2 linked regions of the Homo sapiens genome follow. The protein of the gene in region 1 purifies or fractionates together with the protein of each later gene. This does not show direct contact. Each region holds a gene or a part of one and is shown in the gene's direction. Other genes may lie near its edges.

Region 1 (3,917 bases):
AGGGTCTAGAGCACAGCAGTTGGGCTTGGAAGAGTTACACACACTTGGCTAGAATGTATTATAGTCAGGATCTGAATCTATATTCCCTAATGCCCCTGAGCCTATTTCCTTACCTCTTAGGTGGGGGTAGAGCCCCTATGCATAGGGTAGACAGGAGTAGTAAAGGAGAAAAATGTGTGAACTAGTACCTGCCCGAGTAAGCACTCATTACGTGATAGCTATATTATAAAATATTATTCTAACAGAAAAATTAGTGTGATAACTTAAGGAGTACATACATGGACTATAATTTTTATATGTATCTGTCAACCGTATGCAAACGGATGAATAATTAGAAATTCTGCGAGAAAACAGGTTCACATGTATAATGCTGGTTGCAAAATGATTCATTTTATTTACTATTTCAGGTACCAAAGCAGTCAGACTCACAGCCTAATTCTGATAACCTAAGTCGCCATGGTGAATGTGGGAAAAAGCAAGTGTCTTACAGAACTGATATTGTTGGTGGCGTACCCATCATTACTCCCACTCAGGTAATTAAGTAACTCTTCTATTGTGTGAGGGTCTAATTATTGTATATTGATTTTTATATTATTAAAACTAAAACAGTGCATCTTTGCTTAATTGGTATAATATACAATTACTATAAAATATTTTTGTTTATTTCAAAAGTATTTATTATAAAAAATTTGGAAATTACATAACATTTAAAACTTCTCATGATTTCTCTGAGCCTTTCTTCATGTACTTTTCACCTCAGAAATGGAGATATGAGTTGTATATTACATTTTGTAAACAGATTTTTTCACTTGTATCATGAACATTTTCCAAGTCATCAGAAATCCTTTTATATCATTTTTAATGAGTGCATAGTAGTTCTTCCATGGATTTACCATAAATTACAAATCCTCTATTGGACAAATAGAGTTCCTTTTCCTTTTTGTTTCTTTTACTTTATAAACAATGCTATGATGAATATTCTTAAAGGAGAAATTCCTAGAAATAAAATTGCTGAGTCAAGAGTTTGCAAGTAGTAATTTTTAAAATCTATTTTTTCTACAACCTGGCCTAAGTGAGCTAAACAGAAGACTGGAATTTTAACTAAGTTATATCTCAGAAGTACTAATATGCTAAATTAAGTCTTTATTTGAGTTTTAGGAAAAATATAAATTTACATACAATTTTTGATGAAATTAAAACTCTTGTCTGAGCTTGAATTTCTTGTTTTGCTATTGAAAAGGATGAATTTGTAATGGATATTAAGTTACTAGTAGTTGAGAAACCAAGAATTTTAAAGTAATCAATTGGTATTGCCAAGCTTGGGTATTTTCATTACCAGTGTGCCTTTTGAACTCAAAAGACTTTGACACTTTATAAATCTTTTAAATCAAATTGTATCATTCCCCACATTTTTCAGGTCTTTTGCTACGGGAGGGTGATTAGTGGGATTAGAAATCTTACAACATTAATTAATTAATTAACTATTGAGTGCTTTCTTTATGCTTGGCAAAGGGTATGTTAATGAACAGAAATTCCCTGCTGTCATAGAGCATACATTTTCCACCAAAGTTGGATAAAAAAATAAGCTAGGATTGTGTGTTTACTTTTTCCAAAAGTAATGATTTTAAACTGTTAACCTTCTGGTTACTATGTACCTAGATTAAGCTTCTTTCACTGGTATTATGACCTATGTTGACATAAGGGGTAAGACTATTTTCCTGTAGTTGTGTTAAGACACTGTATTAGTTTGTATCTGTGGCTGTTTTAATTTTGTCTAGAGTTAAGATTTTGTTGCATTGTAATTTTGGTATAGATATTTCAGTAGTTTCTAGGATTTTATGGAGGGTATAATTTTATTGCATCATTTATTTTGTAGTATAGTTTTAAAAATTATAAAATAATATATGTCTATCATAAAAGGCAAAAATTGGTAAATTGGACCTCATCAAAATAAAAAATACTTGCTCTATGAAAGACCTTCTTAAGAGGATGAAAAGAAAAGCTACAAACTGGGAGAAAATATTTGCAAACCACATGTCCAACAAAGGACTTTTATCTAGAACATAGAAAGAACTCAGAACCCAACAGTAAAAAGCCCAAGAAATCCAATTAGAAAATTCATGAACAGATATTTCATCAAAAGATAAAAGATAAACAGATGGTAAGTAAGCACATGAAAAGATGTTCACCATCATTAGCTAGCAGGGAAAAAATACAAATTAAGAGCACAATAAAAGATCACTGCACACCTCTCAGAATGGCTGAAATAAAAGTGACGACACAAATGCTGCCAAGGTTGAGGAGAAACATAATCTCTCAGGTGTTGCTGGTGGGAATGAAAATTAGCCACTCTGAAAAACAGTTTAGTGTTTATGTTTTGTTTTTTTTTTAATAATAAAAGTAAGCTTGTGATTACTGTACAACCCAGCATTTGCAGGACTAGGTGTTTATCGTAGAGAAAGGGAAAATTACATTCACATAAAAACTTGTGCATGAATGTTGATAGCAGCTTTTTTCCTAATAGCTAAAAGTGGGAAACAACTCAAATGTCCTTTAATGGGTGAACAGTTAAACAACTGGTCATCCATCCATACCATGGAAATATAGCAATAAAAAGGAATGAACTCTAGATACAAGGAACAGTCTGGACGAATCTCTAGAGAATTATGCTGAGTGAAAAAAGATAATCTCAAAAGATAACCTTCTGTATGCTTCCATTTACATTACATTTTCAAAATGTCAAAATTATAGTCTTGGAGAACAGATTAGTGGCTGCCAGGGGATTTAGGGGTAGGAACTCTAAAGTTCACAAAGGAGCCTTGGGGTGATGACCAATTCTGGGTCTTAAATGTGGTAGTAGTTACACAGATCTACACATGTGATAAAACTGCATAGAACTGTATAGACACACATAGATGAATGTATGTAAAACTGGTGGAATCCGAATAAAGTTTGTGGGTTGTGCCAATGTCCATTTCTTGTTTTTTGATAATGTTACGCCGTTTCCCTTTGAGGGGAAACTAGTGAAAGGGTACATAGGACCTGTTGTACTTTTTTTGGGCAGCTTCTGGTGAATCCTTATAATTATTTCAAAATAAAAAGTTAACTCCTTCCCCAAAAAAGAGCACTGGTGGCAGGACTTGTGCAAAACAAGAGGAATGGAAATTTGTGCTTTAATCAGTGACAGGAAAATTAAGAGTAAGTATCTCAGATTAATTAGAAAACTCTTCAAAAATCTGTTTCTGACTAATCTAAGGTGGATTTTAAGATTTTCTACTGGGATAATATGAAATAAAAGTATGCTAAACAAGCAAGAAAATAATTTATTTATTTTGCTTCATTTTAGAAAGAAGAAGTAAATGAATGTGGTGAAAGTATTGACAGAAATAATCTGAAACGGTCACAAAGCCATCTTCCTTACTTTACTCCTAAACCACCTCAAGATAGTGCGGTTATCAAAGCTGGATATTGTGTAAAACAAGGAGCAGTGGTGAGTAGCTTAACAAAATACATGAAATAATGAAAAAGGATTACGTTCTAGCAAACTCAAATTAACATGGAAATTGTTTGCTTTATTTTATGAAAGACCCAAAGTGAGAGACCGGCATGCTGAGGAGAGTCAGGAGATAAAATAGGGGATATTCTCTGTTTATAATTCAATGCTGTTATTTGCTTGGTTTGCAGGGGGCCAGGAAAGTTAATGCCCATTACCACTGACTTTCAGTTTAAATGAGCTTTCCTAACAGTTTAATGTTTTAGAAAGTGTTTCTATTCATCTTTACTCATACTCAGGAGTGGGTCAGGGAAAGAGAGCTGTTGTGGGGAGATGGCAGGCCAGCGGCAGGAGAAGGAGTGGTGCCTAGGAGGTCTCTTCCTTGTTTAGGCATTGGCCTGACCTCCGTGGTAAGCTCTCTGAC
Region 2 (3,917 bases), on another chromosome or scaffold:
GTATTCTACTTTGTGTGTCTAGCAACCAGCACACAGGAGGTCCAATAAATATTTGCTGAATGAATGAATGAATGAATGGGGGACACGGAGAAACAGATAAGAAATGCCTAATGTCAAGAGCAAATATTTACCCAGCCCTTATATGTCAGGCACTACACAAAGCCATGTACACTGAATTGACTCATTGACTCCTAAAAAACCCTATGAAGTAGGAGCCACTATTTCCTTCATTTTAAACATGAACAAAGTGCATTACAAAGAGACTAACCAGTTGTCCATGGTCACAAGCTAGAAAGTGACAAGCATGGGACTGGGTCCTGGAGAGTGGTTTGCAGAGCTGGCCATGTTCTTAACCTTTACACCCGAGAGGAAAAATGATGTCCTGCATTAAGGGTGGAGCCCTCTCTAGTGGATCCTAATCTGGAGGAGGACTGTAAGGGGTGCTGCCATTGGCAGGCTTTTTAACTTTTAGGTTCCTGAAGGCTTTTGCATTCTTGGACTTTTTAGAGGGACGGGGAAAGAGGAATTCCTCAATGACATAAGAAGGGGTGGAAATGCGGAGAAACAAAGGAAAGCATCTAAAATCCTATCCCTGAAAGGGTAGAGCCTGCAGCAGAACTCTCTCCAATCATGGGCAGGAAAAATAAAAAGGTGAATACTTCAGTTACGGTTTACACAGGACGTGCAATTACATGTGCTTCCAAGCCGCCCCTGCCATTTGTGGGGAACACCACCATCTACTGTTCTCATCTCTGATACACCACAACCTGGAGAGGAATCATGGTTCCAGTTCTAGTTTCTGCACCGTATTACCCCAAAGGCCATTTGACCATCTTCCCCCAACCTTTAACTCCTCTGTATAGCCTTATTCTGGCGGATGCAGCTATTACTCACCCAATTCCTTGGGCCAGAAAACCTGGAAGTCTCTCAAGATTCCTCCTTCCCTCTCCTTCACATCCAATTGGCCACTGAGTTTTGTGGGTTCTATTTCCTAAATCAATCTGTTCATTCATTCCATATTATGTGCCACGAATACGCCGTGATGAATTGGATAAGACCCCTACCCCCAGCTTCAAAGAGCTTACTGTCTTAATGAGGTCATTTTGCAAATGAACAACCCATTCTATAGCACAGTGGTACATGCAAGAAAGGGGTTAAGCAGAGTCCTGGGAGGGAACACCTCAGGGCTTTATGATTCATCTTGGGAAGCCTGAGGGCTTTTCTGTTGGCATGCCCACGCTGAAATGTGAAGGATGTATACCAGGAACCTGGTGAAGGAAGCGTGCAGAGGGGAAGCAAATGCAACTTTCTGGAGGCTAGAACAGAGAAGGGGAAGTTCACCAGGTCCGCAGAGATTAGCCTGGAAGCTGGTCTCCAGCCCGGTCCTAATCCAGTAATTACACTGCCCAACGGCTTTCCAAAACTCAAAAGAAAAAGCCCAGCACTGTCCTTCCTGTCCCTGGAAGTTTGTCCTTCAAGTCTCCCATCACTTGTCATTCGCTCATCAAGTATTTACTTAACATCCACTCTGTGCAGGTACCATATTGATAGCGGCCTCAAGGGTGCTTCTATTTAGGGAATTTTTAGTCTATTGGAGCAGATAGACCGTGGGGGGCATTCCGGGGATGCTGGGGGCTGTCAGGCCACGCTAGAAGCTGACACTGAAGACGTCAGCTACTCTTTAAGGACCCATCTGCCTCGCTGCCCACTGCTCAACCCGTCACTGGGGGCTCCAGGCCTGCCACCGGCTTGTCCTCTGAAGGGATAAGCAAGTGTTCTATTCACAGCCCGGAGTGCCCTTCTGCCCTCGCCCGAGGCCACTGCCCGCCTGGGGCCAGCTCCAGCGCTGCGTTCTCCAAGCGTGGCCACACTCATCGGCGCGCTGCTCTGCCAAGGGGGCTGACGCGGCGCGCACGGCCAGGGAGCTCTTGGGGGCAGACGCCGTCCAGCCTCCCGGCCGCCGGGTGCCTACTCCAGACCGGCTCTCTCTCTCCCTAGGCGCCTCCCACGCCCGGGCCGGAGAGCGGGCGCTCGGGGCGACGGACGACCCTGCGCGCACGTGGGCGCAGCCTGGAGGCCGCGGGGACCCTCTCCCATGGGGGCGACGGGAGACGTCCTGCCGGTAGACCTTGGCCAGGGGGTCGCGCTCCCCGCCCGCACCCCTCCCGGAGCCCCGGCGGGGACGTGCGGGGACGCGCCCGGGCGGGAGCGCGCGCGCCAGGCGCCTCCGAGGTCCCGGCAGCGGCTCGGGGCGGGCGGAGGAGGGGCCGAGGGCGGGGCGGCCGCAGCCTCCGCCATTCCCGGCCCCCCCCGGCCACGGCGCACCGCCTCCCCGCCCCCGCCCGCCCTCCCCCACCGCGCGCGCTCCGCCCGCCCCGGAGCCTCGCCCTCCGCCACGATGAGCAAATGAGCGCGAGCGAGGGCATGAAATTTAAATTCCACTCAGGGGAGAAAGTGCTGTGCTTCGAGCCTGACCCCACCAAGGCGCGAGTGCTGTACGATGCCAAGGTGCCGCCGCGGAGGGACAGGGAGGAGGCGCGGGCTGGGGGACCCGGGACCGGGGGCGGGGGCGGGGGCGGACGGCCGCGCGGAGCTGAGGGACCGGCCGGGCTCCTCGGCCTGCGAGGAGCGGTGCGGCCGGCAGGGGGCGCTCACAGGGCGCTACGCCCGGGAGTCGGGGCGGGGTCTGGGATGCTTCCACTTCCTTCCGTCAGGCCGGGCGGCGCACGCGCGGTTGGGAGCCTCGCCCATGCTTTGTCGCGTTACCGGGGCTACCGTTTGCGCCCCCGACTGCAACGGTGGCCGCTGAGGGAGGAGGCTTCTCGAATACGGTTTCTGTCTTCGCGTTAAATGTCTCCTTCTGTGCGGCCTGGTGCCGGGTGGGCTCCTGTGGGACGCCCTGGCCGTCCGATCCAGGTTCTAATTCATAGTTACACGGCGCTGGCCGCTGACTTGCGACGTTGTGTCCCTGGGACCCTAGTCCAGTTTAGGCCCCATCCCGCCTGTAGGCCGTGAACCCCATCCCGAGGGCAAGGTTGGCCCAGTGTTTTCGTACCCCAGGGCCTTGCAGCATTTACGTTTTCAAACTCTGAAGGATTTACGTGGGTCTGACCATAGTTGATGGGAATCGCGCCCCGGGCCGGTCCACCTAAGTCTCCGGGAGCTGAGCCACATCTTGCAGCTCCTCAGATTTGGGTGGCGGGCAGGAGTTGGCACCAGGTCTCCCAGATCCCCAAGGAAAGCACCCAGGTGCTTTCATTTCAGAGACCTGGGTTCCTAGGGCCACCTGGGCGAAGCCTTAGGCGGCAGGGACAGGGGCAGTCCCAGGTGTGTCTTTGGCGATGTCTGGACAGCTCTGTCCATTAGAGATGCTAAAGGACATCCCTAAAGGGATGAGCATATTCTGCCTTCAGTTCCCTCCCCTGCTGCTCCTGTCTTTTAACCGCGTCTGCTATCCCTCTTTCTCCTCGCCCTCCAGCCTCCTCGGGGCGGAGGGGGGGGGGCACGCCCCATCATTAGTTTTAGTTGTTCCCTCTAGGGACACAACAGGGAGGGATTCCAGAGTCTCCAGCTAGCCATCCTGGCACTGGACATAGGGGAGCCCAGGAGACTACAACTCCCAGAGCTCTCAGGGCTGCAGCTTTCATCTAGCCTGGAGTCTCTCCTTAGTGACAAATCGGCTGGCCAATGGCTTCAGAAGCCTCACACTGTCTCACGCTCAGAGACCAATCACGGGGTGGTTGGACGGATGTTTCCTATTTTGAAGGCGTCCACTTGGGGGAAAAAAATGAAAGGAAAAATATTTCAACCCGGCTGTCGGTCTAAAAGAGGAGAGAATGCTTTCTTTAAAAAAGGGTCTGTGAATTAGTTTTCCTGATCTAACTTCTAATTTTCTGTATGTTCTGCCATTTGTGGGA

The links.
Region 2: the proteins of PLEKHA1 (region 1) and MSL3 purify together in Homo sapiens (affinity purification with mass spectrometry; 2 studies listed by BioGRID and IntAct, with this or other methods). This does not show direct contact.

What each region holds. Positions count from the first base shown.
Region 1 is NC_000010.11:122,412,513-122,416,429, forward strand, and holds part of PLEKHA1 (pleckstrin homology domain-containing family A member 1), read left to right. Parts: intron 1-407; coding exon 408-533; intron 534-3,346; coding exon 3,347-3,490; intron 3,491-3,917. UniProt on the Homo sapiens protein: Binds specifically to phosphatidylinositol 3,4-diphosphate (PtdIns3,4P2), but not to other phosphoinositides. May recruit other proteins to the plasma membrane.
Region 2 is NC_000023.11:11,755,858-11,759,774, forward strand, and holds the start of MSL3 (MSL complex subunit 3), read left to right. Parts: upstream 1-2,379; 5' UTR 2,380-2,406; coding exon 2,407-2,508; intron 2,509-2,724; exon of another isoform or gene 2,725-2,850; coding exon of another isoform or gene 2,851-2,916; intron 2,917-3,789; exon of another isoform or gene 3,790-3,917. UniProt on the Homo sapiens protein: Non-catalytic component of the MSL histone acetyltransferase complex, a multiprotein complex that mediates the majority of histone H4 acetylation at 'Lys-16' (H4K16ac), an epigenetic mark that prevents chromatin compaction.